2 linked regions of the Homo sapiens genome follow. The protein of the gene in region 2 interacts with the protein of the main gene of each other region in a pairwise test. Each region holds a gene or a part of one and is shown on either strand. Other genes may lie near its edges. The genes, in order: MCMBP and ASL.

What was found.
Region 1: the proteins of ASL (region 2) and MCMBP interact in binary tests that used the Homo sapiens proteins (3 or more experiments, as listed by UniProt).

The regions. Positions count from the first base shown.
Region 1 is NC_000010.11:119,837,684-119,853,200, forward strand, and holds part of MCMBP (mini-chromosome maintenance complex-binding protein), read right to left. Parts: intron 15,512-15,517; coding exon 15,367-15,511; intron 11,894-15,366; coding exon 11,742-11,893; intron 10,031-11,741; coding exon 9,930-10,030; intron 5,744-9,929; coding exon 5,571-5,743; coding exon of another isoform or gene 5,565-5,570; intron 4,913-5,564; coding exon 4,789-4,912; intron 3,278-4,788; coding exon 3,160-3,277; intron 1,018-3,159; coding exon 852-1,017; intron 1-851. UniProt on the Homo sapiens protein: Associated component of the MCM complex that acts as a regulator of DNA replication.
Region 2 is NC_000007.14:66,070,443-66,085,959, reverse strand, and holds the start of ASL (argininosuccinate lyase), read right to left. Parts: upstream 10,142-15,517; 5' UTR 10,104-10,141; exon of another isoform or gene 9,922-10,103; 5' UTR 9,879-9,921; coding exon 9,867-9,878; intron 4,158-9,866; coding exon 3,963-4,157; intron 3,593-3,962; coding exon 3,509-3,592; intron 3,081-3,508; coding exon 3,024-3,080; intron 2,884-3,023; coding exon 2,786-2,883; intron 1-2,785.

The sequences.
Region 1 (15,517 bases), on a different chromosome or scaffold from region 2:
TGAGGCAGGAGAATGGTGTGAACCCGGGAGTTGGAGGTTGCAGTGAGCCAAGATTGGCCACTGCACTCCAGCCTGGGCGACAGAGCAAGACTCCGTCTCAAAACAAAAAAAAAATTATATTAGATCTTTTCTACACTTCCCTTTTGAGGTATTAGATGACTAAAGGCAAAGCTTCCTCCCATTTCAGCTTTTTAAAAAGCTATTTGGGGCAGGTGCAGTGGCTCACACCTGTAATCCCAGCACTGTGGGAGGCCAAGGCAGGAGGATCACTTGAGCCCAGGAATTCAAGATCAGCTGGGCAACATAGCGAGACCCTGTCTCTACCATTCCTTACACTCACTGAAAAAAAAATTTTAGGTTATATACAACTACGCAAAAGAACCCAACACTGTAGGCCCATAAAGACTGCTCCAACCATTCGCTGACACAATAAAACTTTTCACCAAAGAACCCTTACGACCCTCAACATCTAATACTACCCTTTATATTACTGCTCCATTATACTAATACTACCCTTTATATTATTGCTCCATTATATAATATATAAAATATATAATATATGATATATATTAAATGAGACATTATATATTATATATGATATATATTATATAAGATATATTATATAAGATATATATCTGTTCCATTGTACTACTTTCAGAATACTATGGCAAAACATAGTTGGTGTATATAATTAGTTTATAACATATGCTTTAATCAAATTCATATGCCAAGCCTTTATCTTACGTTGTTAAATGTGAATTTGTCCATAGATACTCTTCTAAAAGTTATTCCTAGATCTGGCTTTAGTGCGAAGGAAGTCAGAAATGGAAGAGAAACATCTATGTACGTACCTGGGGTATCCAGCTGCCCCTGTTCCAGGAGAGTCTCATCGATTACAAGGGAAGTATTGCTGGGCAGCTGGAGGAGCCCACTGACCAAGCGATTGGCTGTGTAGTCTTTGTGGGGAATGAATTTCAAATGGTTCATGTTCTCTATAGTCATCTGCAGACGAAAAGACTGCAAAGAGAAATTTTTTAGTGAACAAGAATTTAAGTTTCCCTGTTTTAAGAAAATATGTACTTGGAATTAAACATTGTGTTTCATATGGAAAAAGTGATCTTATAAATTTCTAAGGGAGTAGTGATATGGTTTCTTGAACTCCAGAAGCAAAAATAGTATCTAGATCTTACATTTGAATTTCATCCATTTTATGAGCTACTTTATTCTCAAATGTCTTGTTCAATATTCTTGAAAATCAATTTTAATTTAACCAATGAAACAAATGGTAGATAACTGACATATAAATATTAAATACCCCAAAACCTAACCTCTTTCACCTAACACAAGCTAGCTAGCAAAAAGAAAATGTTAATTTTACTCTTCAAGACAGGGAGAGAAAAGCTTAATTTTCCTCTATATTCTTTGAGTTAAAATTGTATTCATTTATCATAGACATTTTTGAACAAACTTTTCAGAGAAAAATCAAGGAGCAGAGCACACTGAGCTGTGGATGGACCTGCAGCTCTCAGGAGGTGCCTCCAGGACGCGAGCACCTTCTCACTCAGTGTTTAACGAGTAAGCGAACCATCTATGCTCCTCCTCCAGCTCTTGAGCCACCATTCCCAACACCCTCTGTGCTCTGCCTTATACACCAATCCATTCTTCCATCCCTCCAGCCTCAAACAATGTGGCAGGGATGGAGAAGAGGGTATGGTGGGGGAAGGCTGTCAAGGAAGAGGTAAGATATATTGCGAAAATTTAGAGGAGTTTTGTGTATTACCTCAGTGATTCTAAGAAAACGGGGAGCTTAGGGGTGCTTAAATGACCTACCATGTATTAATTTATTTGTTGGTCTTCTACCTAAACTCTGTGAGGGCAAAGGATCTGTTTCAATAATTCTCAAAATGTGGTCCCGAGAACCCCCAGGGAATTGCTTAAACCCTTTTACAGGGTCAATCAGGTCAAAATCATGCATGGATAAAAGATCCTTTCAATGTGCGAGACTAATGAATTTTACCATAGCAGACTATGGAAAGTTTACGAATAGGATTTCAGATTCCACACTTAACTATCTTTAAGAAAATCTCATGTGGACAGTTTTGGTCTAGTATCAAAGACCACCACCCAGTTATCTGCAAAGGCTATCGAAACCATCCTTCCTTTACCATCTACTTTTCCATCTGTGTGAGGCCAGCTTTCCTTCATATACTTCAACCAAAACCTGAGACTACAATAGACTGAAGGCAGAAGCAGATACAAGCATCCATTGTCTCCTATTAATCCAGACATTGAAGAGATTTGCAAGAATGTAAAACAATGTCACCTTTATCACTAATCATTTTTGGCTTGGGAAAAGTTGTTTTTATAAAAATATTTATATGTAATTTTTTATTTTTAATAGGTGTATTTACTTTATCTTCTAGTTTGGTAAATTAATGATAAATATAATCATAACGTGAAAAACAGCTCTTTGAGTATGAACACATTTTTCAGAGTGTAAAGTGAGTCTAAGGAGACTGAGAACTGCTGGTATATTCCAGTCCACTTCTGCTTCTTGAGGGCCTGGACGAGTGTTAGCACTGAGACACTGAATACATTCGGTTCAATAAAGATCTAGTGCACCCTCTTCAATTTCCAAAGAAGTGATCAGTATTTTCAGTCACACAACTAATCAGAAGCAATTCCCCTGTTCCCAAGATCCTACCACCACGCAAATACTGCATTCCAGATACCCTGGCAAATAAAGTGAGCTCAACTTTCCAAACAGGAATTAAAATTGAGGCAATGGAGATAAAGAACTTTATTACCTCAACTAAAAGAATTATGCTCCTACAATTTAGAGTTTATTTAGATTTAAGACTTTAGTGTACAAAAAGGATACCAAATTGGACAAATTGGTATCAAGAGAGTGTAATTTTAAGGGAGTTACTACAATTGTTTTGTTAGACTTACAGAAATTTGTGCTTAGGCAAAAAGACAAAAAAAAGTGAAATGTTTAGGGGAACGTACATTTTAAATTATGTAATTTGGCAGGCTTTGTTTCCCCTTAAATAAGATCTATTAAAATCTCTAAGTTAAATATTTGAAGTGAATGAAAGACAGTTAGATGGATTTTTTAAGTGTGCTTAGGTTTATAATACATATTTATATTCATCTTACTGCTGGAACAAGATGTTGAATAATTCGATACAAGTGTTCTGTGAAGGTACTATTCCGTGGGCAACCACTCAAGTTAACTGTAAATTTTCCTAGTGGAAGGACATCTCTTCTTGTATATCTAGAAAAGAAAGAAATCAATCAATAAGATGCTGAAGTGACTTCCTGATTTCTATCAAATAGCGAAGAATAGAAAAATTAGCTTAATATTGTCATTAAAAATAAACCAGAATATTCTGACCAGTTATTTTATCAGAATAACAGCAATAAAAGTAATAGCCAATATTTGTACGTAAGTGCTGCTGGTCACGTGCCAAAGACCGTTCTGAGTATGTAAATGCTTCCTCATTTAACCCCTAACCATTCAGCGGTAGGTGCTGTTGTCTTTGCTTCACAGATGAGAAATCCGAGGCACAGAGATGATAATAAGCAACATGTTCATCTAAATGGAAGCTGACAGAGCTGGGATATGAATCCGGGTAGTTTGGTTCCAGAGCCTGTGCTCTCAACCATTATGTACTACTGTCACAGACTGATTTGAGAAAAGATAAGATTTACAGCACAAAGATGTTTCCTGCAACTTTATAATAGAGAAAAGCTAGGAAAAGCTAACATTTAGGGAAATGGTTACAGTATGGTACAACTGCATAGTGAAATACTTTGCAGCCACTACAAAGTTCATGAAGCATTATGATGGGAAAATGTTTAATATATATCAACTGCTGAAAACAAGACACGCATCTGTGCTTAGAGTGTAACTAAGACCTATGCAAGGATGTATACATATGTAAACAAAAACCAATGAACATGTACCTAAAGGTTAACGGAGGTTCTAAGTGGTGAAATTACAGATGATGTGCATTTTCCTCCTTATGTTCTTGGAACTTGTCAAAGGCCCACACTAGTTTTAAAATGAGAAACAAAGAAATACAGTGGAGTCAAGGGATGCGGTGCTAGTGTCAATGTCCACGTTAAACGTGCACATGACGTGGGCGCCTTGGGATGTATAAACAGAGCGTTCAGAATGCAAAAGGGATAAAACAGCTCATTTTACTCATCAGCCAGGTCCTTTATCTCAGGGGTCCCCAACGCCCAGGCCGTGGACCAGTACTGGTTCATGGCCTGTTAGGAACCGGGCCACAACATAGGAGGTGAGGGGTGGATGAGTGGGCATTACCGCCTGAGTTCCGCCTCCTGTCAGATCAGCAGTGGCATCAGACTCTCACAGGAGCGCGAACCCTATTGTGAACTGCACATCTGTGTGTTCCCTATGAGAATCTAACTAATGCCTGATGTTCTGAGGTGGAACGGTTTCATACTGAAACCATCCCCACTCCGGTCCATGGAAAAATGGTCTTCCATGAAATGGGTCCTTGGTGCCTAAAAGGTTGGGGACCACTGCTTTATCTGATTTTGGCTCTAAAATTTAAGGGGACATAATCAAAATGCTAAATGTGAACTGTGAGAAAAGGAATTTGTCTGTGATTTGGTATAACAGTTAACACTGGACAGATAAAAACCATGTGATGAAGCCCAATAAGGAAAACACACAAATGACACCAGCAATCTTCCCGCTCTTCCACTTCCACACACACCAAACTCCCCTAATTCCCACCAGGATACAGCACTTACACTGTGGAGATGAGATGTAATATAAGGTATTCAGCAGCCAAACTATCCCCCAGAAGGGCATGAGTAAGGAACCCAAGAAGTTCTGCTCTGACTGGAGACAATTCGGACATGAAACTTGAAACAACTGAAGGAGAAAGGAAGACCTGAGTCAGGACACACACTCCAGTTCCTCTCAAGTGTCTTAGGTAAAAAAATAACTACGTGAGCAAAGCACAATTCAGTCGACAGTAGGTAAAGCTTAACATATCCGTCAGTAAGTGATGCTAATCTTAAAAATAAGGCAGTTTGCATCCTCCTTTTTTTTTTTTTTGAGACCAAGTTTTGCTCTTTTTGCCTAGCCTGGAGTGCAATGGTGCCATCTCAGCTCACCGCAACCTCTGCCTCCAGTTCTCCTGCCTCAGCCTCCCGAGTAGCTGGGATTACAGGCACACGCCACCACACCTGGCTAATTTTGTATTTTTAGTAGAGCCAGGGTTTCACTATATTGGCCAGGCTAGTCTCGAACTCCTGACCTCAGGTGATCCACCCACCTTGGCCTCCTAAAGTGCTAAGATTACAGGCGTGAGCCACTGCACCCAGCCTTGTATACTCTTTTGTCCTCATTTCAGTGAAGAGAATTAATGTAAGAGAAAAATGGGGCAACGAGAGAGAGATTACTGAAAACACTTATTGTGAGGAATGAAGACCTGACTCTCAATTCCACTATGAGCACGTTACAGGCAGCTCTGGACACACTGAGGCTAACAGTCGATAGTTGACTAGGCTGTAACACTTACACTTACAGGTTTTGCTCTCCTCTTTGTTAAGGCAGGCAGGCAATAATGGGTTGATGTGTTGCAACTTCTGGGCTAAGATCACATGAATTCTCGGCACTAATGAAGCAGGAGGACTGTGTACTCTCTGCTCCTCTGCTGTGTCTGTGCACTCCATCGGATCCAGCAGTGCAGAGGCATCCCTGTGGAGAGGTGATAAAGTTTCAATTTAGAGAGACATCAATTGCACAGATGCAAAAATAATGTGCATCTTGGAAAACAAAATTAGAGTTAAAGCCAAGAATATTTCCACCTGTACATCTCCTTAAAGAACAGAAAGTGGCCTCTCATTCTAAAGTGTTACATCACACAGACTTCAGGCTTGTTAAGACATATCATGAAATAATGCATTTATTCAATTTTTCAAGAACGGTATTTTTATTTTTATTTTTTTTTTGGATGGAGTCTCACTGTGTTGCCCAGGCTGGAGTGCAGTGATGCGATCTTGGCTCATTGCAACCTCTGCCTCCTGGGTTCAAGCGATTCTCATGCCTCAGCCTCCTGAGTAGCTGAGATTACAGGTGCACACCACCATGCCTGGCTAATTTTTGTATTTTTAGTAGAGACAGGGTTTCACTATGTTGGCCAGGCTGGTCTCGAACTCCTGACCTCAAGTGATCTGCCTGCCTTGGCCTCTCAAAGTGCTGGGATTACAGGCGTGAGCCACCATGCCTGGCCAGAAACAATAATATTTGTTATTCAGCACTTCAATAAATGGAATGTAGGATGTCACTCATAAGGCTATTTCAAAACACAGGTACTCCTTGAACTATTGGCCGGGACATCGAATACTTGACAGCAGATCTCAAAAACTGGGGTCTTTTTCTCAAAAGCCATCTGGTATCTATTATTCAGCGTGTGGAGAATCCATTCATCTCTTATCTTGCTAATTGTTTTTCCTAAATTTAATTCTTACATGATCCCTCGAAGACTGAGTAGACAAGCAATGAAAGTATGAATTTTTCAGACTTGCTAAATAAATCTGCAGATGATAGATTTGTGAGACGACCAAAACAAATAGCTAATCTTTTAGATCTTGACTTTATAGAATCTATAGACACTGAAGTAATAAATTCATACTCCTGTATTTTTTAATACAAGCATAATAACCTTTTCCATAGTACGTACCATGTGACAGACAACGTTCAATGCCTTACACGTACAAATTCACCAAAACCTCACATCTACCCTTATTTACAATGAGGAAACCAAGCCCAAGGTGACATAGCTAGTAAGTGGCCAAGTCAGGACTCCAACCCAGGCTGCCTGCCTGTCTGTGCTCTTAACCTCTGTGATGGTTAATACTTTGTCAATCTGACTGGATTGAAGGATGAAAATTATTGTTCCTGGATGTGTCTGTGAGGGTGTTGCCAAAGGAGATTAACATTTGAGTCAGCGGGCTGGGAGAGGCAGACCCACCCTCAGTCTGGGTGGGCAGCATCTAATCAGCTGCCAGCATAAAGGCAGGCATGTAAAGAGCAGACTGGCTGAGTCTTCCGCCTCCACCTTTCTCTCATGCTGGATGCTTCCTGCCCTCAAACATCAGACTCCAAGTTCTTCAGCTTTTGGACTCTTGGACCTACACCAGTGGTTCACCAGGAGCTCTTAGGCCTTCAGCCACGGACTGAAGCCTACACTGGTGGCTTCCCTACTTTTGAGATTTTGGGACTCAGGCTGGCTTCCTTGCTCCCCAGCCTATTGTGGGATTTTACCTTGTGATCATGTGAGTCATTCTCCTAATAAACTCCCCTTCATATATTCATCTATCCTATCAGTTCTGACCCTTTAGAGACCCCTAATACAACCTCTAAACTAAACTACATCAATAGTGAAGTAACTAAAGCAGGAAAGTCATCACAATCAGAAATTGCCAAGATGAACAATCTCATATACTATTATTAAGGGACGGTTAAGCTTATTTAAAGTTGTTTAAAATTTTTGTTTTGTACCATTTTTTTTTAACTGTGAAAAATGTTAAGTTCATCCTACACAGAAACTAAGATGATTAATGTCCGGTATTCAACAAGAGGACTCTGGTGTAGATGAGGGACATCAGCCCTTGCTTTTGGCAATCTCAAAACAAAACAAAAATGAATGAGGAAGGTCTAGATTTCCAAGATATGTTGTTAATAAAAAAAATTAAAAAGTGTAAGAGTATATATACCATGTTACCTTTTATAGAAGAAAAAGGTAGAAATAAAATGTATACGTATCTTCATATTTTTGTAAAAAAATAAATACAGGAAGGATAAACCAGAAACTGTGGTTCCCTAAGGAGGCTGGGTGGGAACAGACAGCAGGAATGGGGATAGCCGAGAATGACACCTCTGAGAATCTTTCTAAGTAAAATAAATAATGAAATCACACTGAAGGGGAAGAAAAGTTACCTGAGTAAGTGGAACATAGCTCTGACTACACAGCTGCATTCTAAAATAAAAATGAACTGGAAATGTATTGAACTCTAATTACTAGGTTTCTGTTTTGTAGTGGTATGGGTTACCAATTCTGAAATTCCCTTCTGTATATGGTAGAAATGGGGAAACAACAGATTGTGAATAATGGGAATCAAATTTGTTAGAAAAAGAAGTCATAAATATAGAAAGGAGAACAACTAGAACATGTGACTCCTGCTGTGCTGAACTGGAATCAGAAATATGAACCCATGGTTTTTCACAGACATTAGAAATACACAAAACATGCATGTGAGTGTGTATGTGTGCATTTAAATGTGGGTGCGTATATATGTATCCATATGCTGCATGTATCCTAGCTCTGTCTACTTTAAGGGCCTAGATGCAAATCTAATCCAGTACCAACGAGCACATCTAGGACTCAGATCTTCAAAGCATACGATGAAGCTGCAACAGCTTAATATGCCAGAAAATAAATGTTAAAAAATGATAACATCATCTCAAAAAAAGGACCCGGCACCTGCTTAAAGTGGCTCCCACTAGCCAAATCTGGGAAAATTTGGGTCTCGAAATAAAATAATGATATTAACATTGAATAAAATCAGAATCTATTAGTCTATACTAAATATAAGTAAATACATTACTTGAATAAACAAATGGAAGAGGTATCTTTTATAGTAGAATGCCAATAAATAAATGTACTGCGTTAGAAAATTGCCAACAAAGTAATAACTGATTCAAGCAAGAATCATCAATGAATGCTAAAATAAATTGGTGAAAGTTTAATGAGAAACTGGATATTTATGTCCCCAAGTACCTTCCTCCAAGTTACTTGTCAATTACAAAGTGAGAAATGTAACTTTACAGAAGAGACATCTGGAAGTCACCACCTTAACCAACTAATGAAAATTAACCTCACCAGTAAAGGGACAAACTGACATCGCATGCCTCCTGCTGTAACATACTGAGGATACATCAATTCTGTAATATTCCTGCCAAAAATGCAAAACATTGAGTCTAACCATGAGGAAACAAGTAACTGGTAACTGGCTTACACTCTTCAAAAGCATCAAGGCTGTCTGCTCTCTACCACGTGAGAAGACAGCCATCTGTAAACCAGGAAGCGGGCCCTCACTAGAAACCAGATCTGCTGGGAACTTGATTTTGGACTTCCCAGCCTCCAGAACTACTGGAAGACATATATTTCTGTTGTTTAAGGAAAAAAAAAAAGTGGCAAGACCATGAAAGACAAAGGCTGAGGACTGTTTCAGATTGAACTCTAGTTATTTAGGTTTATGTTTTGTAAAGGTATGAGTTAACAATTCTGAAATTCCCTTCTCTATGTTGTAAAAATGTGCAAATGATAAGATTGTGAAAAATGGGAATCAAGTTTAAGAGAGTTACACTAATACAGAAAGGAGAACAAGCAGAACGACACCTGTGGTGCTGAACTGGAATCAGAAATACAGTATGAACTCAGTAGAAATAGAGAATGAGCGAGCTTCTGAACCCTGGACTGGGGGATGCAGAAGGGAGACGTGTAAGAAAGAACATGATTAAGACAATTAGTGAAATTAAGTATAGATTGTGGATTAGTGTATTGTATATTTGTGGCAAATTTCCTAGTTTTGATACCTGTACTCTAATTATATATGAGAAAGTCAGTACTCTTAGGAAATGTTGACAAGCAGTTAGGGGTAAAAGGGCTTGATTTCTGCAACATACTTTCAAGTGTTTCAGAAAAATGTGTGCATAGAGAGCACAAATGAATGACAAAACACATGGGGTGCAAGTGTTTACAACTGGTACATCTGGGAGAAAGGGAAAAGGGAGTTCTTTAAAACCATCCTGTAACTCTCCTGAAAACTTGAAATTATATAAAAATAAAGGAGACCAAAAAAAGAGCACACAGACTCACCTTTCATCATTATTCAGTATACTCAGCACAGGATCCACAGACAGTATGCCATATAGCTCAAGAATGTCATTTACTTTGAAACAATCCCAATCTTCATAAACCTAACAAGAGACCACATGAAATCACACTGTTAGAACAGACACAAAGCTTAAGATATTAGTCTTGAAGTACCAATATCTTGGAATTTTAGATCAGGAAACAGACCTTAAAGCAAGTCCTTTATTTTATAAATTTTTATAAATTGAGACCAAGAGTCATTCTGCTAGTTAGCAAATAAGTGAAAAACCAAAACACAGGATGCCTAACTTCCAGACTAATGTCTGTTTTCAATATACCACAGTACTACAAAAAAAAAAGGCTTTTCCTAAAATTAAAAAAAGCCTTTTCCCAAAGGCTGACAGTTAAAACTAGAACTGTGCACTATCTCAAAACCTATTAAACCACACCAAGAAAAGGAAAAAACAAAAACAAGATGATTAACTTTGCATTTATTCATAAACTGCAACATCGGATTAACACAAAACTTGGAATGGCCAGAAGATTTTTCACAATTTAAAAAAAAAAAAAAACCTTTCAAAATTGTCTGTCATGATGGACTTAGTAATAGTCAAGGCCATTTACTGATTAGACCTGGTAGAAGCAAGGCAGGGGAAAAAATGGTAATTTTGGTCCCTGTGCCATATGACTTAAGTGTCATTTCAGTTAAAACCACTGAGAATCTGGGTGCAGTGGCTCACCCCTGGAATCCCAGAACTTTGGGAGGCTGAGGTGGGTGGGTCACTTGAGGTCAGGAGTTCGAGACCAGCCTGGCCAACATAGTGAAACCCCATCTCTACAAAAAATATAAAGAACGAGCTGGGTGTGGTGGTGCATGCCTGTAATCTCAGCTACTCAGGAGGCTGAGGCACGAGAATTGCCTGAACCCAGGAGGTAGAAGTTGCAGTGAGCCGAGATCGTGCCACTGCACACCAGCCTGGACAAGAGAGTGAGACTGCCTCAAAAAAACAAACAAAAAAACCCCCCAAAAACAAAAAAACCCAAAATGCACAAAGAATAAGGATAGAAATCCTTAACAATCATTTCTGAACCTTCTATCACTTGCTCATTTATCAGGATCAAAACACTAGAATAAGTAAGATGGAAGAACAAACTATTAAAAGTTTTCTTCCTTCTGTTTTATTTTAAATATAAGTGAAAAATAGGTTTTGCTGAGAGAAGGAAGAAGACAAAAATGAAGAAGATATTATGTTAGAAATGATACAGGAAGGGAACAGACATAATTTAAAAGTTGTTCTGCTTCTGCATTTGAGATGTTCTTCGATTCTTTTAACTTGTTAGCTTACATGCAAAAGGAATGTGCAGGTGTGATTAAATTAATAACCTTGAAATGGGGGGGATTATCCTCGATTAACTGGCTGGGCCCCATGTAATCACACGGATTCTTAAAATTGGGGAAACTTTCTTGGTTGTGGTCAGATGAGATGTCAACATGAAAAAAATGGTCAGACAAATGCAATGTTGCTGGCTATGAATATGGAAGAAGGAGCCACAAGGCCAAGGAAATTCTCCCTTAGGGGCTCCGAGAAAGGAATGTAGCCCTGCTGGCACCTCGAGTTTACCCCAGTGAGACCATGTTGGATTTCTGACCTAAAGCCTGTAAGATGATAAACTTTTGCTGCTTTAGGCTATTAAATTTGCAGTGATTTGCTATAGCTAGCCCAGCACAAGGGAACAAATGCAAATGCTCAGACACTAAGCTACTTTCTGAGACACATAACATTTCAGTGTTGGATCTACGAAAGGTTTTATTACCTTCACAAGGCATGCAGGGCCCTTCTCTCCTGGCAATGGAAAATTCAAATCAAAAGGAGAAGACAAGTTCAGAGAGTTCAGCTGTTGCCCAGTAGAAGCTTCAGTTTCTAAACGTTTTGGCTCTCCACACCATTGAAGACCACCAACACTCCCTAAATTCAAAGGATAGCATTGCACTTAGTCATTTCTAAGGCCTCCTGGAGAAAAAGAACATTCCATAAGTGCCTTTCAAGTTTGATATACGTGATGCTTCTGAGCTTGCAAAGTTCAAGTTGTTACAGTTTTTAAGGAAACAGCACATACTAACAAAGTCTTTTGTTTGATCTGTAAGAGGACAAAGATAAACATGAAGATCTAAAAATTTTACTTTTTTTTCCCTTACTGTAAGATATCAACAAATTCCTCCCATCAAATCTCATGTATAACCAGTTTCAAAAGTTGATTTGCAATATGGTTACTTTGACATCTTTGATTTAAGGAATACATGGTCTACCGACAGCAAAACTCCTTGGTAGAACATACTTTTTCTATTAATTAAGCAGAATAAAACCATACAGCAATAAATTAATTTACCAAATACTTATTAATATCCAGTATGTACCAGGAATCAAACCAGTTGTTGGGGATATACAGGTCATTAAAAGAATAACCCCAACTCCTGAAGTAGTTACACTTTAGGGCTGATAACATGAGAATCAAATTATAGCCTGCCATACCACGAAACACCACTCAGCAATAAAACGGACAAACTACTGATACATGCAACAATTGGGATGGATCTCAAGGGAATTGTGCTGAAGAAAAGACAATCCCCAAAGTTTATGTAATATACAATTCCATTCTTAAAATGACAAAATTATAAGAGATGGAGAAGAGACCAGTGGTTGCTAGGGTCTAGAGACTTCTGGGGACGGAGGAGGCAGGAGAGTGGTAGTTAGGAGCATAAAAGGGCAACATGAGAGATCTGGGTAATGAAATATTCCCGATTTTAACTGTGGTGGTGGTCACATGAATCTACCTATGCGATAAAACTGCAAAGAACAGGCCAGGTGCAGTGGCTCAAGCCTGTAATCCCAGCACTTTGGGAGGCTGAGGCAGGTGGATCACGAGGTCAGGAGATTGAGACCATCCTGGCTAACACGGTGAAACCCCGTCTCTACTAAAAATACAAAAAATTAGCCAGGCGTGGTGATGGGGGCCTGTAGTCCCAGCTACTCGGGAGGCTGAGGCAGGAGAATGGCGTGAACCCAGGAGGCGGAGCTTGCAGTGAGCAGAGATTGCACCACTGCACTCCAGTCTGGGTGACAGAGCAAGACTCCGTCTAAAAAAAAAAAAAAAAAGGAAAAAAAATGATTGTATCAATATCCACTTCCTGGTTATGACATTCTACTATAATTACGTAAGGTATTACCACTGGGGGAAGTAGAGGCTAAAAGGTATACAAGATCTGTTTTTTTTTTTTTTTTTTGAGACAGAGTCTCACCCTGTCACCCAGGCTGGAGCATGGTGGCGATCAGCGCTCACTGCAACCTTCGCCTCCCGGGTTCAAGCAATTCTCCTGCCTCAGTCTCCCAAGTAGCTGGGATTACAGGCGTGCACCACCATGCCCAGCTAATTTTTGTATTTTTAGTAGAGATGGGGTTTCACCATGTTTGCCAGACTGGAACTCCTGACCTCAAGTGATGTGCCTGCCTCGGCCTCCTGAAGGGCTGGGATTATAGGTGTGAGCCACCGCAACCAGCCTCTCTGTATTATTTCTTACAACTGCATGTAAGTCTATACTGTGTCAAAATAAAAAGTTTAAAAATATGTATAGCCTAAAACATTGACTAAACACCAACAAGTGTTACTTTATATAAATAAAGTACTCAAATGCATAAAAAGCCTGCATTAAGACATTCAAACAAGAATGGTAAGAAATAAAAAGTAGCATCAACTGCTTAAGTGATAAGAGAATTAACATATTTCCTGGACTTAAATACACACTCGAATATATTACAATATATAAGTTACTATGATATTTATTTGAGATGGAGTCTCTCTGTCACTCTGGCTGGAGTGCAATGGCATGATCTCAGCTCACTGCAACCTCCGCCCCTCTGGGTTCAAGTGATTCTACTGCCTTAGCCTCCCAAACAGCTGGGATTACAGGCGCCTGCCACCATGCCTGGCTAATTTTTGTATTTTTAGTAGAGATGGGGTTTCGCCATGCTGTCCAGGCTAGATGATAGACCATTAATTTTAATATATTCTGGGGATCGGTGGAGAAAAAGAATACTACGACATTTATATGTATTTATAGTAAAACATTCCAATTTTAAACACATTAAAATATATCTTAGCATTAAGAAAATCTGGAAATATCAATTTATAAAGTAGAGTAATATAAGGGTAAATAAAATTCATTAGTAAATCCCTGTTTACCACTGACTGTTAAATTTGCCTTGGCCAGGCACAGTGGCTCATGCCTGTAATCCCAGAACTTTGGGAGGCCGAGGCAAGTGGATCATCTGATGTCGGGAGCTCAAGACCAGCCTGACCAACATGGAGAAACCCCGTCTCTACTAAAAATACAAAATTAGCCAGGCGTGGTGGCGCATGCCTGTAATTCCAGCTACTCAGGAGGCTGAGGCAGGAGAATTGCTTGAACCCAAGAGGTGGAGCTTGCAGTGAGCCAAGATCGTGCCACTGCAATCCAGCCACTGCAACAAGAGCGAAACTCTGTCTCAAAAAAAAAAAAAAAAAAAAAAAAAAAAGCCTTCTCTACCCAATCTTGCAGATAGTAAATGACCAGACTGATTTGTTTTGCCTCCTTGTCCTTTAATTTTTCCTTCTGATTAAAGGTGCTGAAGGGAAGTGGATAGCACATACTCGAATATATTACAAACTCGAATATATTACAAATATAAAGACAAACTTATATACCCACCATAACAAAGAAATCCACTGCTTATAAAAGCTAAGACTGGTTGGGCGTGGTGGCTCGCGCCTGTTATGCCAATGGCTTTGGGAGGCTGATATAGAAGGATCACCTGAGCCCAGGAGTTTGAGACCAGCCTGGGCAACATAGTGAGATCCCATCTCTACACAAAATTTAAAAAGTTAGCTGCATGTGGTGGCATGCGCCTATAGCCTTAGCTACTAGGCAGGTTGAAGTGACAGGGGATCACTTGAGCCCAGGAGGTCAAGGCTACAATAAGCCATGATTATGCCACTGCACTCTAGCCTGGGTGATGGGAGTGAAACCCTGTCTCAAAACACAAACAAACAAGAAAATTAAAAAGAAAATGAGAAAGCATGTTTTCAGATAAAAATAACTCATTTTTAGGGTAAAGTACCAGGCTTCTGTATTAAAAATAAATATGAAGATAGAAAAGACCTTTCCAGATAGTCACTTGAGACTCCAAACACATACATCAGAGCAGCCACTTGTCACAAAGTGATGCCTAATTGCTCATTTGCGAAGCACAGTCTCATCAGAGTACTGTAAAAACTCTCAACATGTCTGTAACTCTGATAAATTGCCAGCTCCTAAATATAGAGCTATATTATGTAACAATTCACTCTGAAAACCAATCTACTGTAAGAGAGCAAAGTCTAGAGAAAACCTGTTGGCACACACTACCTGCTTGTCTGGCACCTGCATGTTGGTCTTTCTGCTTATTGGGCTGTAGGTCCATATCGTCATCATCTTCATAACTCCTCTTGTGGCGACTAGGAGTGTAGGATGTTGAGGGACTGACTCGAGCTTGGTTTGCATTAACATAGGCGTTAAA
Region 2 (15,517 bases):
CATGCCACCATGCCCAGCTAATTTTTAGTTTTTTGTAAAGATGGGGTCTTGTGGCCAGGCGCGGTAACTCACGCCTGTAATCCCAGCACTTTGGGAGGCCGAGGCGGGCAGATCACAAGGTCAGGAGATCGAGACCATCCTGGCTAACACGGTGAAACCCCATCTATACTAAAAATACAAAAAATTAGCCGGGCGTAGTGGTGGGCGCCTGTAGTTCCAGCTACTCAGGAGGGCTGAGGCAGGAGAATGGCATGAACCCAGGAGGCAGAGCTTGCAGTGAGTTGAGATTGCACCATTGCACTTCAGCCTGGGCGACAGAGCGAGACTCCGTCTCAAAAAAAAAAAAAAAGATGGGGTCTTGCTATGTTGCCCAGAGTGGTCTGAAACTCCTGGTTTCAGGCAGTCCTCCTGCCTTGGCCTCCCAAAGGGCTGGGATTACAGATATGAGCCACCATACCTGGCCTGTTTTTTTGTTGTTGTTGTTTTTGAGAAAGAGTTTCGCTCTTGTTGCCCAGGCTGGAATGCAGTGGCGTGATCTCGGCTCACTACAACCTCCACCTCCCAGGTCCAAGAGATTCTCCTGCCTCCCAAGTAGCTGGGACTACAGGTGCCCACCATCACACCCAGCTAATTTTGTGTATTTTTAGTAGAGATGGGGTTTCACCATGTTGGCCAGGCTGGTCTCGAACTCTTGACCTCAGGTGATTCACCCGCCTCAGCCTTCCAAAGTGCTGGGATTACAGGCGTGAGCCACAGCACCTGGCCTGTTGTTTTAAATAAACCAGCTTTACTGAGATATCATTCACAATTTACTCATTTAAAGTTTACACTTTACTGTACAACCATCACCACAACCAATTTTAGAACATTTTCATCACCCCATGAAGAAATTCTGTACTCAAGGCCAGGCACGGTGGCTCAAGTCTTTAATCCCAGCACTTTGGGAGGCCAAGAGGGAAGGATCACTTAAGGCCGGGAGTTTGAGACCAGCCTGAGCCACATAGTGAGACCCTGTTTCTACAAAAAATTTAAAGAATTCGCGGCTGGGCACGGTGGCTCACACCTGTAATCCCAGCACTTTGAGAGTCCGAGGTGGGTGGATCATGAGGTCGGGAGATTGAGACCATCCTGGCTAACATGGTGAAACCCCGTCTCTACTAAAAATACAAAAAATTAGCCGGGCGTGGTGGTGGGCACCTGTACTCCCAGCTACTCGGGAGGCTGAGGCAGGAGAATGGCGTGAACCTGGGAGGCAGAGGTTGCAGTGAGTGGAGATCACGCCACTGCACTCCAGCCTGGGCAACAGAGCAAGACTCTGTCTCACAGGTGGTGCACACCTGTGGTCCTAGCTACTCAGAAAGCTGAGGTGGGAGGATCATTTGAGTCCAGGAGTTTGAGACTGCAGTGAGCTATTACCAAGCCATTGCACTCCAGCCTAGGTGACAGAGCAGGATCTCATCTCTAAAGACAATTTAAAAAGTTAAAAATTTAAAAATTAAGCTGAGCGCAGTGGCTTATGGGTGTAATCCTAGCACTTTGGCAGGCCGACGCGGGCAGATCACCTGAGCTCAGGAGTTCAAGACCAGCCTGGTCAACATGGCAAAACCCATCTCTACTGAAAAAAATACAAAAATTAGCTGGACATGGTGGTGCACACCTGTAATCTCAGCTACTTGGGAGGCTGAGGCACTAGAATCACTTGAACCCAGGAGGCAGAGTTTGCAGTTAGCTCAGATAGCGCCACTACACTCCAGACTAGGTGACAGAGCAAAACCCTGTCTCAAAAAAAAAAAAACAACAACAAACAACAACAACAAAAAATTAAAGAAACCCTGAACTCAGTAGCAGACACTCCCTGTTCCTCCTAGCAGCCCCACACCACCTGCTGGGTGACAATTCTTGTGCCCTTGTTTTCCCCCAAGTCTGCACAACAGGGGTCACAGGGAGTTGAGGAAGAGGAGGGGTCTCTGACAACACATGGAGACTTCTCAGCAGCTCTTCGTCCAGGTCTGCAAGGAACAAATCCAGTCCCAAAGACACCAGGTCCCAGAAGCCAAAGCCTGAAATGAGGCCAGCAGGAGGCAGCCTTTGGCTCTGTCTTTTGCCAGATGGGCTGGATGGGGAGGCGAAGCTTAGGATGGGGGATCTGGGGGACAGGCAGTGTGGGGAGTGACTCTGGCTGCTCCAGGCACAGCCAAGCTAGCTGTGCTTGGCTTAGCTTCCTGCCTTCAAATCTGCAAATGGTGAGTTTTCTTTTTTTTTTTTCTTTTTTTTTGAGACAGGAGTCTCGCTCTGTAGCCCAGGCTGGAGTGCAATGGCGCGATCTCGGCTCATTGCAACCTCCTCCTCCCGGGTTCAAGCAGTTCTTCTGCCTCAGGCTCCCGAGTAGCTGGGATTACAGGCGCACACCACCACATTGCCTAATTTTTGTATTTTTAGTAGAGACAGAGTTTTCCCATGTTGGCCAGGCTGGTCTCGAACTCCTGACCTCAGGTGATCCACCCACCTCGGCCTCCCAAAGTGCTGAGATTACAGGCGTGAGCCACCGCACCCAGCCCCACGAAGGGTTAGTCTTCTCTGCCTGCTGAGCTAGACTGGCATGGGAGTATTGGGGCCTGCAGGAAATGGCCCACTCCTGGCTGCTCTGCCTCGATCCTGGAGTTCTGGGATGCCCCTGTCCCCCAGGGCCTGGCACCCCCACGCTGTTCACCCCTGCCCCCTAGGTCTCCTGTTCAGGCTTCCATCACACCTCTGTCTGCCCCCTGGGTGTCCCTGTAGGACTCACGCCTCTGCCCGATCCACCATGGTCCTAATGAGCTCCCAGAGGAGGCCCGAGAGCGTGGAGCAGGTCTGCCGCATCCACAGCCTGAGGTCTGTGACCACCTGTGCAAGGAGGAGATGGTGCTCAGGGAGGCCGATGTGTTGCTTCCCTGAGGAGCCAGGACCGCTGCAGAACTCTAACTGCCCCCTGGGCTCCTCAAGGTTGGGACAACACGGAGCAGGGGGTGGAGGGGCTAAAGCACCTGGTCATTCCGGCTCCGTCCCGTGTGCAGCTTCCCTGCCGTTGCACCAATGAGCTCCTGGAGGTGAAGGGAGACCCAGGGTCACGGTCTATACCCCCAGAGGAGTCAACCCAGGCAGGGCAGTTTTCCTCATCAGCCCTGCCAACCTACCTCCATACCCCAGGGCTCCGGGTCCTCCCCAAATCTCTCGCCATTTCTGCTGAGGCCTGTTCTTTTTTTCTTTTCTTTTTTTAATTTTTGTAGCTGTGGGACCTCATTATGTTGCCCAGGCTGGTCTCGAACTCCTGGTCTCAAGCAATCCTCCCACCTCAGCCTCCCAAAGTGCTAGGATTATAGGCATGAGCCAGGGTGCCTGGCTCATGTCCTGAGGTCTCACATGCTGTCTGCCAATGGCGAAGTAAACAGAATGGTGCTAATGCTCAAAGTGGCCCTGGGCAAGGTGGAGAGGGGAGGCAAGGAAAGCGGTGGGGCTCCAGGGGTCGTACCTTCAGGCGGCGCTCATTGGCTGTGTGGATGTCCTCATCATTGGAGTTCAGTTTGAAGGTGCCCTGGGCCCACTCCTCAGCCACCTGTAGTGGGTAGCAGCAATGCCGGGGTCAGGTGAGCAGGCATCAGCAGCCAAGAGAGCCCCTGCCTTGGTCCCACCCTATCCCTGGTGACTGACTGTCCCTGCCCAGGAGCTGAGTCCTGGAAGCGCACCCTGGGAGGGGGCATCTCAGGCCCAGCACACCTTTACCCATGAGCCATGTGGGCCACAGGGGTCATTAAAGGATGGAGAGAGGCAGTCATCAAGGCACACAGTTAAACAGCACTTGAGTATATAATTAGTTCAATGTGAAACCACAGATGGGCAACACTGCACTGTTTGCTCAGGGATTTGGTGGGAGCCTGGGGCCACAGGGAAGGGGCCTTGGGTGGGGCTTGGGCCACGGCAAGTACCTTGTCTAGGCCATGGAGTATCTGGTCCATCTCGGCCTTGGTGAGGAGCCCTGCCTTCTCCAGGCCCCTGCTGTAGGCTTTGCTGCCTTGAACATCCACCTCCCAAAGGTGCCGGTCGTAGGCAATGGACGCGTTGAACTTCTCCATGATGGGGTCCACTGCACCCACAAACCGGCCACCCCAAAGCTTCCCACTCTGGCCAGGAGAGCAAGAACAATTAGTCTCTCCTCCACCCTCCAGAACAGTGCTTCTTGCAAAGAGTCTTTGGGAAACTTATCAAGTCTGATGGTAGCAGGGGCATCAGATCATTCTAACTGGGCAGACAAGGAGGCTGAGACCTTCCCAGAGTCACCACCCTGGGAGTGAGCATGGGAACATGGCTGAACACCAAAAGTTTGGGTTCTTTTTTTTTTTTTTTGAGACAGAGTCTCACTTTGTCGGCCAGGCTGGAGTACAGTGGTGCCATCTCAGCTCACTGCAAACTCTGCCTCCCAGGTTCAAGAGATTCTCCTGCCTCAGACTCCCAAGTAGCTGGGATTACAGGCACGTGCCACCACACCCAGCTAATTTTTGTATCATTAGTAGAGATGGGGTTTCACCATGTTGGCCAGGCTGGTCTTGAACTCCTGACCTCAGGTGATCCTCCCATCTTGGCCTCTGAAAGTGCTAGGATTACAGGCATGAGCCACTGTGTGTGGCCTTGAAGTTGGGGTTCTTTCCCACCACATGGCACCCCTCCAAGGAGATGATGGCAGGGCCTGAGACACCCCTGGGACCACAGCAGAACTTCTGGAACCTTTCCCACCACTGACCAAGGTGCTAGGTGCCATCCTAATTGTTGACACAACCCTCTGGGTAGGCACCAATACAATTCCACTATGAAGATGGGGAAACTGAGGCACAGAGCAGCCTGCTCTCACCTGGGGTGGGATAGCCAGGGCTGCGGCCCAGCAGTCTGAAGTCAGAACCTATGCTTTTCACCCCTGTTCCACCAGGGCTTCTGGACTTGGCTCTGGTGTCCAGAACCTTTGCTGCAGGGACAGGCAAAGAGGCCTTGAGGGTCTCCACCAAGCTTAAGTGCCCTGCAACTCTCTCCCTCACAGCTTGGAGCTGGACTAAGATCCCAATTCCTACCACTCCCTTGGCTCTGAAAAGCACCCTGACACCCCCCATTGTCACTGGCCTTCTAGGAGGTCACTGGGTGATCCCTTACTCCCCAGGAGCCAAGGGCAGAGGAATGGTATGTAGGCATCTATGTTTTGTTCGTTTTCTTTGAGATAGAGTCTCACTCTGTTGCCTAGGCTGGAGTGCAGTGGCGTGATCTCGGCTCACTGCAACCTCCACCTCCCGGCTTCAAGCCAATTTTCCTGCCTCAGCCTCCCGAGTAGCTGGAATTTCAGGCGTGTGCCACCACACCTGGCTGAGTTTTATATTTTTAGTAGAGACGGGGTTTCACCATGTTGGTCAGGCTGGTCTCGAACTCCTGATCTCAGGTGATCCCCTGACCTTGGCATCCCGAAGTGCTTGGGATTACAGGCATGAGCCACTGTGCCGAGCCTGTTTTGTTCATTAAAAAAATCTTTTTTAATTCTTTTTTTTTTTTTTTTTTTTTGAGATGGAGTCTCTCTTTGTCACCCAGGCTGGAGTGCAGTGGCAGGATCTTGGCTCACTGCAAGCTCCACCTCCCAGATTCACGCCATTCTCCTGCCTCAGCCTCCTGAGTAGCTGGGACTACAGGTGCCCACCACCATGCCTGGCTAATTTTTTGTATTTTTTTTTTTCAGTAGAGACGTGGTTTCACCTTGTTAGCCAGGATGGTCTTAATCTGACCTCGTGATCTGCCCACCTCGGCCTCCCAAAGTCCTGGGATTACGGGTGTGAGCCACCACACCCGGCCTTTAAATTCTTTTTTAGACACAGGGTCTCACTTTGTTACCCAGGTTGGAGTGCGGTGGCACCATCATAGCTCACTGCAGCCTCAAACTCCTGGTCTCAACCAATCCTCTTGCCTCAGCCTCCCCAATAGTTGGGACTACAAGCATGCGCCACCACACCCAGACATTTTTTTAAAATTTTATAGGACTGGGAGTGGTGGCTCATGCCTGTAATCCCAGCATTTTGGAAGGCTAAGGTGGGTGGATCATGAGGTCAGGAGACAGAGACCATCCTGGTCAACATGGTGAAACCTGGTCTCTACTAAAAATACAAAAATTAGCCAGGCGTGGTGGCACTCGCCTGTAGTTCCAGCTACTTAGGAGGCTGAGGCAGGAGAATCGCTTGAACCCGGGAGGCGGAGGTTGCAGTGAGCCAAGATCACGCCACTGCACTCCAGCCTAGGTGACAGAGCAAAACTCTGTCTCAAAATAAATAAATAAATGAACAAAATAAAATAAAATAAAATAATTGGTAGAGACAGGGTCTCACTATGTTGCCCAGGCTGGTCTTGAATTCCTGGGCTCAAGCTGTCCTCCAGCCTCAGCTTCCCAAAGTGCTGAGATTATAGGCATGAGCCTAGGCGCCAGCCACATCTATGTTTTGAAAGAGGGCAGAGGCCAGGGCATGGGACAGAGTGGGGAGGGGGTACAGAACACCTGGGGAGCAGCCCTAGTGCCCAGGACTGGGAGGAGGGTGGGGTAGAGGTGGGCATGTCACTTCACTGACGTCCTTTTTGTGGAAGGGAGTCTACAATGGCCAATGGGGACATATATCCTCCTCTGTCCCCCTACAATGCCCCAGACTTCTATTAACCACCTGGCCTGGCACCTATTATTAAACCTCAGGGGCTGGGCGTGGTGGCTCACACCTATAATCCTAGCACTTTGGGAGGCTGAGGTGGGCAGATCACGAGGTCAGGAGATGGAGACCATCCTGGCTAACATGGTGAAACTCCGTCTCTACTGAAAACACACACAAAAAAATTAGCCAGGCATGGGGGTGTTGGGCGCCTGTAGTCCCAGCTACTTGGGAGGCTGAGGCAGGAGAATGGCGTGAACCCGGGAGGCGGAGCTTGCAGTGAGCTGAGATCGTGCCACTGCACTCCAGCCTGGGCGACAGAGCAAGACTCTGTCTCAAAACAAAAACAAAAACAAAAACCCTCAGGGTTGGGAGGCCCAGGCAGGTGGATCGCTTGAGGTCAGGAGTTCGAGATCAGCCTGGCCAACATGGTGAAACCTCATCTGTACTAAAAATATAAACATTAGCCAGGCGCGGTGGCAGGAAGCTGTAGTCCCAGCCACTTGGGAGTCTGAAGCAGGAGAATCACTTGAATCCTGGAGGTAGAGGTTGCGGTGAGCAGAGATGGCGCCATTGTACTCCAGCTTGGGCGACAGAGCAAGACTCCTTCTTAAAAATAATAATAATAATAATAATAAGATAAGGATAATAATAGTACCTCTCTGATAGCCTTATTGTGAGCATTTAATCAGATAATATTTGCAAATTGCATACATAACACGGTGCCTGGTGCTCAGGAAGGACTCGAGAAATGCCAGCTGTTACTAAGGGAGGGCTGGCAGGGGATAGGACATGCTTCAGCTCCACTCCTGGTTCCTGTATGCACCCCAGAGACCTCTCCAGTGCTCTGGCCCTGAGCTGTGAGCTGACTCCTCTATGCCCAACAGTCCCGACTGCCAAAGGACTCTGCCCTGCAGAGGCAGCCTCCGCCCCCACCCCATCTTTGAGCTGGTCCTGCCCCTTACCCCACAGCTGCCCCACCAAGCCTAGATCTCCAGCAAAGCACCACGTGGGGCCCTGGTCCTGATCACTGGAGCCAGCCAGTCAGAATTGGGGCCAGCCTGCCCCTCAGCCAGGAGCCTGGCACCGCCTCCCCCAGCGGGCTCCTGGGCCACCCTGCCTAGGTTGTTAGTAATAAAAATAACTACTTAATAAGTGGAGCTGCAGCCAAACCAATTAGTGCCAACCTACAGGAAGGCCTGGGGCAACCTGAGGTCACCTAGAACACTGGGCTTGTTGGAAGCCAGACCACTCTGCTCTAGAACCAAACTCCTATCCTTACTGGCAGGCATAAGAGGACCCCACAGGGAGATCAGAGTGAGGTGCCTCCCCTTGGGCACTGAGGAGAGTGGAGGCCTAGTGTGGTAGCAGAAGGTGCTACTCCAAGCCAGGACACATCTGGGCCAGAATGGTCTCTTCAGGGCCAGGGGATGGGGCACTGAGTTGGGCTGGGTTGAATGAGCAACAGTTAAGGTCGAATGTACATGGGAAATACCAGTTTTGGTTTTGGGACTTGTGGGTTTTTTTTCTTTTTTTGAGGTGGAGTCTTGCTTTGTCGCCCAGGCTGGAGTGCAGTGGTGCGATCTCAGCTCACTGCAACCTCCGCCTCCCGAGTTCAAGCGATTCTCCTGCCTCAGCCTCCCGAATAGCTGGGACTACAGGCACCCACCACTACACCCAGCTAATTTTTGCATTTTTAGTAGAGACGGGGTTTCACCATGTTGGCCAGGCTGGTCTCAAACTCCTGACCTCAGGTGATCTGCCCACCTCGACCTCCCAAAGTGCTGGGATTACAGGTGTGAGCCACCATGCCTGCCAGGTTTTTTTATTTTTATTTTTTTGAAACTGGATCTCACTCTGTTGCCTGGGCTGGAGTGCAGTGGTGAGATCATGCTCACTGCAGTCTCAAACTCCTGGGCTCAAGCAATCCTCATGCCTCCGCCTCCTGTGAGACTACAGGTGTACGCCACCACACCTGGGTAATTTTCAAAATCTTTTTGTAGAGACAGGGTCTCATTACATTGCCCTGGCTGGTCTGGAATTCCTGGGCTTCAGCAGTCCTCCCGCCTCGGCCTCCCAAAGTAGAAATATCAGTATTGTTGTGGTTAGCCACCATTTATTGAGCACCTACTGTTGCTCAGCCCTGTGCTAGGGATTTCACATATGTTATTACGGCCTTTTATGAGGTGGGCAATATTACCCCTATTTCACAAATGAGGAAAGAGGTTTAAAGGGCTCAAGTGACTGGTACAGAAACCAAGTCTGTTTGGCTCCAAAGTCCAGGCCCTACCCCCCTGCCATGACCCAGAAGCTTGCAGGGCACTGAGCTTGCAGGGCATTGAGAAAGAGGAAGTGAATTGCTAGCTAATGAAGGCCAAAAGGGCCTGGAACCCAGACCTCCTGCTTCCCGGAGTTCCCTTCATCAAGCATCAGGCGAACAGCCCCTCTCACCTGAAGGGTCCAAAGCAATGGCCTCATAATCTAGTGCCTTACAGAGTGAGGCCGACAGCTATTATTACCCCCATTGCCAGATAAATCAACTATGGCCCAAGGAAGGAAAACCTCTGCCTGGGAATCCAGCATCTCAGTGGTCAGGAGGAGAGGCCAGGAGCCACTGACCCTAAGAGGCAGGGTCCAGTGAGACAGGAAGGGACCAGGCACCAGGGTTGCTGGAGCCACGAGGCGACGTCCCCTTTTTCCTGGCTCTTTCCACATGCCACAGTCAAGGACAAGAACACTTAGGGGCTGAGCTTTATTCTATAAACAGGGACAATTGCTCTAGCAGGAGAAGGGATGTGGTGTGGGGTGGGACCTGACAGGAGGACACGTGGTAAGAAGGAAGGAAGAGTTGGAAGGCTGAAGGCTTGGGAGCCACTTTTCCTGGCCAGGCAGGCATCACTGTGAGGTGAGGGCAGAGCCACTCTACCCCTAGTAGTGTGGGTTGGTGGGTTTGCCACAAGGGCTGCCTGCGGATACTGGTGAGTCCTGGTAAAGGTGACTGCTGGGCTCCAGATGATGCGCCCGGGAGGGCTGGGGGTGCAGGCTTCCTAGGTAATTTTCAAAATTGCTTCCTGGAGGGCGATTCCCAGCAGGGTGGCCCGAGGCAGGTCTGGCGCCCCCACTCTCTCCTTTGGAGGCTAGGAGGACCGGAGTCCCCGAGGTCCCACTCACCTCCGAGGCCATGTTGGGCGGTTCCTCGTCGTCCGGAAGCTTCGGTCCTCCGGGTCTGGAAGACAAGACCGGACTGACGACCTCCTTGGCCAGCAGGGTCCCCCGGGCCGGGCTGGCTCCGAGTTCTGGGCACTGCGCTTGAGGGAGCGCAGCCCTTGGGGACGCGGACGTGAGCGCGCGCCACGGTGCTCGGCGTCCTCCACGCCCGTCCCGCCCATCCGGCCGCCGCGCACTCACCTCCGCCTGGCCGCACGGATAGTGTCGCGCCCGCCACTGGCCAGGGCTTTTCTGGCCGGGATGGCGTCAGCAGCCGCCGGTCCTGTCCCCACCCCTGGCGACGGCCGCGCCAATAGGAGGCCGCCCGGCGGGGTGGGCGTTGCCTCCATCCTCCAATCCTGGCCGTGGGCGGGGATACCTCCCGCTGAGCTGGAGGCTAAGCGGCCCCGGGGCGGGGAAGCGGGCGGGGAAAGGGTTGGGGGGACCCCGACGGGGAAGGGGCCTGGGCTGGGGTTGAGGAGGGTAGTGCGCTGGCGTTCGTGCTGTGGTCAGCAGACACGCAGGGGACTGGAGACTCGGGCCAGGGGTAGAGGCTATGACATCAGGCCCGGGCCTGGCAGGTTCACAAGATATATAAGGTGAAATGGCATGTTCGCTCATTCACTCATTCATTCATTCATTCAACAAACACGTACCAGGCACCTCTATGTGCCAGGTACAGAGAAAGGCATCAAGGAAAAAGGAAGGACCATCAGAAATGAAGCCTGTGCCAGGCGCGGTGGCTCACAGCTGTAATCCCAGCACTTTGGGAGGCCGAGGTGGGAGGATCGCTTGAGGCTACGAGTTGGAGACCAGCCTGGGCAATACAACAAGATCCCGTCTCTACAAAAAAATTAATAATAATAAAAAAAAAGCCGGGCGTGGTGGTGCACGCCTGCAGTCCTAGCTACTCAGGAGGCTGAGGCGGGAGGAGCACTTGAGCCCAGGAGTTCGAAGCTGCAGTGAGCTATTGTGCCACGGCACTCCAGCCTGACTCCTCTAAAAAAGAAAAGAAACGCGGCCGGAGGCCGGGCGCGGTGGCTCACGCCTGTAATCCCAGCACTTTGGAAGGCCGAGGCGGGTGGATCACGAGGTCAGGAGTTTGAGACCAGCCTGGCCAAGGTGGTGAAACCCCGTCTCTACTAAGAATACAAAAATTAGCCGGGCACGGTGGCGGGTGCCTGCAATCCCAGCGACTCCGGAGGCTGAGGCAGGAGAATCTCTTGAACCCGGGAGGCGGAGATTGCAGTGAGCTGAGATGGTGCCATTGCACTCCAGCCTGGGTGACAGAGCAAGATTCTGTCTCAAAAAAAAAAAAAAAAAAAAAAAGAAAGAAAGAAAGAAAGAAAGAAAAGAAAAGAAAAAAGAAACGCAGCCGGGCACAGTGGCTTACGCCTTTAATCCCAGCACTTTGAGAGGCTGAGGCGGGCGGATCACCTGAGGTCAGGAATTCGAGATGAGCCTGGCTGACATGGTGAAACCTTGTCTCTATTAGCCGGGTGTGGTGGTGGGTGCCTGTAGTCCCAGCTACTCCGACAGCTGAGGCAGGAGAATCACTTGAACCAGGGAGGTGGAGGCTGCAGTGAGCTGAGACGGCACCACTGCACTGCAGCCTGGGCGACAGTGAGACTCTTGTCTCGAAAAAAAAAAAAAAAAAAGAAAGAAAGAAAGAAAAAGAAAAAGAGAAGAGAAAACAAAGAAAGAAACGAAACAAAAGAAATGAAGCCTGACTTCAAGAAGTTCCAACATAGCATGGAGGAGGTGTGCAGGGAGCACAGGCGTTGGGGAGGGGGGCTATGTTGGGTACTCAGGGAAGAGGTCCTTGATCTGATTAATTAATTATTCAACCAAAATGTCAGGCTGGATTCTAGGCACTGGAAGTACCCTGAAGGGGCTTCTAATGAACCTGTCTTCTGCATTGGGTCTTGGAAGATGGGGGGAATTTGCCCAGGGAAGAAGGGGAGAACATTCCAGGCAGAGGGAGAAGTCTGGACAAAAAATGTGACTGGCCTGCTTTAAGAACAGGAAATCATCCAAGTGGCTGTAACTATAACAAAAGGTAGGGAGGAGAGGTGGAAGGAGTTTGGGAGAAGGCTGTGAAGAGTCTTCAATGTCAAGAGAGGGAGTTTGTTCTTGGTCCTATAGGTCATAGGAAACCCCGATCGATTTTAAAATCAGAGGAGCCAAATTTATTTTATTTTATTTTATTTTTATTTATTTTTTTGAGATGGAGTTTCGCTCTTATTGCCCAGGCTAGAGTGCAATGGCACGGTCCCAGCTCACTGCAACCTCTGCCTCCCAGGTTCAAGCGATTCTCCTGCCTCAGCCTTCCAAGTAGCTGGGGTTACAGGCATGCACCACCACGCCTGGCTAATTTTATATTTTTAGTAGAGATGGGGTCTCTCCATGTTGGCCAGGCTGTTCTTGAACTCCTGACCTCAGGTGATCTGCCCGCCTCAGCCTCCCAAAGTGCTGGGATACAGGGGTGAGCCACTGCGCCCGGCTGAAACCCCATGTTAAAAAAGAAAGAAAGGAAGGAAGGAAGATAAATCTAGCTATAGTATTGAGGATGGAATGGAGGGAGAAGAAGAGACCAGTGGCTGGAATGTTTTGTGATTTGAAGGTGTTTAGCCCTCACTCAACTCAAGAGTGGAATTACTTGGAGTTCCCAGAATGCACCTGACTGTTTCAAGCCTTCCTAAATGCTCTTCCCTGTGCCTGGGATGCCCTTCCCTCAGTGTCGGTCTTGCCACCTCCCATTCGTCCATCAGTATTTTTTTTTTTTTTGAGACGGAGTCTCGCTCTGTCCCCCAGGCTGGAGTGCAGTGGCACAATCTCGGCTCAATGCAAGCTCCACCTCCTGGGTTCACGCCATTCTCCTGCCTCAGCCTCCTGAGTAGCTGGGACTACAGGCGCCCACCACCACGCCCAGCTAATTTTTTGTATTTTCAGTAGAGATGGGGTTTCATCGTGTTAGCCAGGATGGTCTCAATCTCCTGACCTCGTGATCCACCCGCCTTGGCCTCTGAAAGTGCTGGGATTACAGGCGTGAGCCACCGCGCCTGGCCTTGTCCATCAGTATTCTAGCCAAACATCATCAATGTCAGGTAGACTCCCAGCTGATCCAGGCATCCAACTCTGGGCTCCCATGTGATCCTGAGTATACGGGCATTTAGCAATCTTTTCCTGATTTGGGAGCACTGTAGTAGTGCCTTCTGGGCCTTCTCCACCACCCAAGTGGTGAGCTCCTTGCAAGCAAAGCCTCATCTGACACATCTGTGTGCCCTGACTCCCAGCCCTCTCCTGTCTTCTCCCACAGAAGCCCTAGAACTGGGCTGCAGCTGACCACTGGGAGGACAGGAAAGACTGTTAGATCAACTGTATGCCGTGTGGTCCTGAAAAATGCCAAAGTGGAGTGGCAAGTCCCGAGATCCAACAGCTAGTGTCTGAGGCCTGGCATCCCTTCCTGGGAGGCCTCGTGTGAAAGTCAGTGGCATTCTGCAGACGTGAGGTCGTACTTCTGAATATCCAGCAAAATACTGGGGCCAAACCCTTTGACAAATGAACTGAGGCTAGAAAGAGAGTTGGAGAAGTGGTTTGACAGCAGAGCTGTAACCACAATACCTAACATGGGTAAGTCACCAGGTGGCAGGCTCTGAGCTAAAATTCATCTCATTGCATCTTCACGACAGTTCTATTTATAGATAAAGAAAGAGAAGCTGGCTGGGATCCGTGGCTCACACCTGTAATCTCAACACTTTGGGAGGCCGAGGCAGGCAGATCACCTGAGGTCGGGAGTTTGAGACCAGCCTGACCAACATAGAGAAAGCCCATCTCTACTAAAAGTACAAAATTAGCTGGGCATAGTGGTGCATGCCTGTAATCCTAGCTACTCGGGAGGCTGAGGCAGGAGATCGCTTGAATCGGGAGGCGGAGGTTGCGGTGAGCCGAAATCGTGCCATTGCACTCTAGCCTGGGCAGCAAGAGTGAAACTCCATCTCAAAAAAAAAAAAAAAGAAAAAGAAAAGAAAAGAAACAGAAGCTGCAAAGGGTTAGGGTTAGGGGTTAGAGGACATGTACACAGGCACCCAGGTAGAAGAGGACAGTCAGTCTGGCTGTCCACAAGACAGAAGAGAGATTGTCAGTCCAGGTTTGTTTGCAACAAACAGCAAGCTTGCAAGCTTGGCATACGTGAAGGCCATGCTGTAGGGATGGGGAAGAGACTCAGGAAGAGGAGAAAGACAGGAAGGCAAGCTGGGCACGGTGGCTCATGCCTGTAGCCCCAGCTACTTGGGAGGCTGAGGCAAGAGAATCGCTTGAACCCAGGAGGTGGAGGTTGCAGTGAGCCGAGATCGTGCCACTGCACTCCAGCCTGGGGACAGAGCGAGACTTGGTCTCAAAAAAAAAAAAAGACAGGAAGGCAGCATAAAGGCTTGCAAAAAACAAAAAATCAAAAACAAATAAACAGAAAGCAGATGAGTCAAAAGTGTCTGCAGCTGAGTCCCTGACAGTTGACACTGAAATGGACGTGAGCCTTTATCTTGACAAAGCATCCTTGGCATTAAAGACTCATAGGAGGGCAGGGCGAAGTGGCTCACGCCTGTAATCCCAGCACTTTGGGAGGCTGAGGTGAACGGATCACCTGAGGTCAGGAGATTGAGACCAGCCTGGCCAACATGGTGAAACTAAGTCTCTACTAAAAACACAAAAATTAGAGTGCGGCCTGTCCTGTCCTTGCCATGAGGCTGCGGCAGGCACCAGAGTCCAGAAAGGTGTTCATTCAGCGAGACTACAGCAGTGGCACAGGCTGCCAGTTCCAGACCATGTTCTCCATGGAGCTGGAGAACCAGATTGATAGGCAGCAGTTTGAAGAAATAGTTCAAACTCTAAATAACCTTTATGCAGAAGCAGAGAAGCTTGGTGGCCAATCATATCTCGAAGGTTGTTTGGCTTGTTTAACAGCATATACCATCTTCCTATGCTTGGAAACTCATTACCAGAAGCTTCTGAAGAAAGTCTCCAAATGCATTCAAGAGCAGAATGAGAAGATCTATGTTCCACAAGGCCTTCTCCTGACAGACTCCATTGAGTAAGGACTGCGAGTTATTGAAATTACCATTTATGAAGGCAGAGGCATGAGCCATGGAAGATAAACCATAGAATTAAAGATCCTACTTCTAGCTGGGCCCCTCATGTATCCATTGGCCGACTGCAGAGTGTCTCTACCTCCTCTCCAGAGTATCATTCCTATCTGCTGCCAGAGCCACACTGCCATTTACTCCAAGGACTTTGTAAAATTCCACACCTGGAAAGACCTTTAGTTGCTCAGTATCCACTTTGTGTCTCCAAATTGTGTAGGACTCTGTAATCTTTTGACTAGTTTCTGAGAAAACACAATGAAGCATTTCACTTTTTTTATTGAAGGCCATTTAATAAAACACAGCTGGTCAGCCCAGTGCAAACCTTATTATCTGCCACCAGTACGTACCATTGGTTCTCCTCATTCCTTGGGCCAGCTTCTCAGGTAGCTTTAGACCTCAACAAGTTGTATCTTTGCCAGTGTTCCATCTTGTTCCCCTAAATTAATAAAATGCTTTTCTCCAGGATTTTGGCAA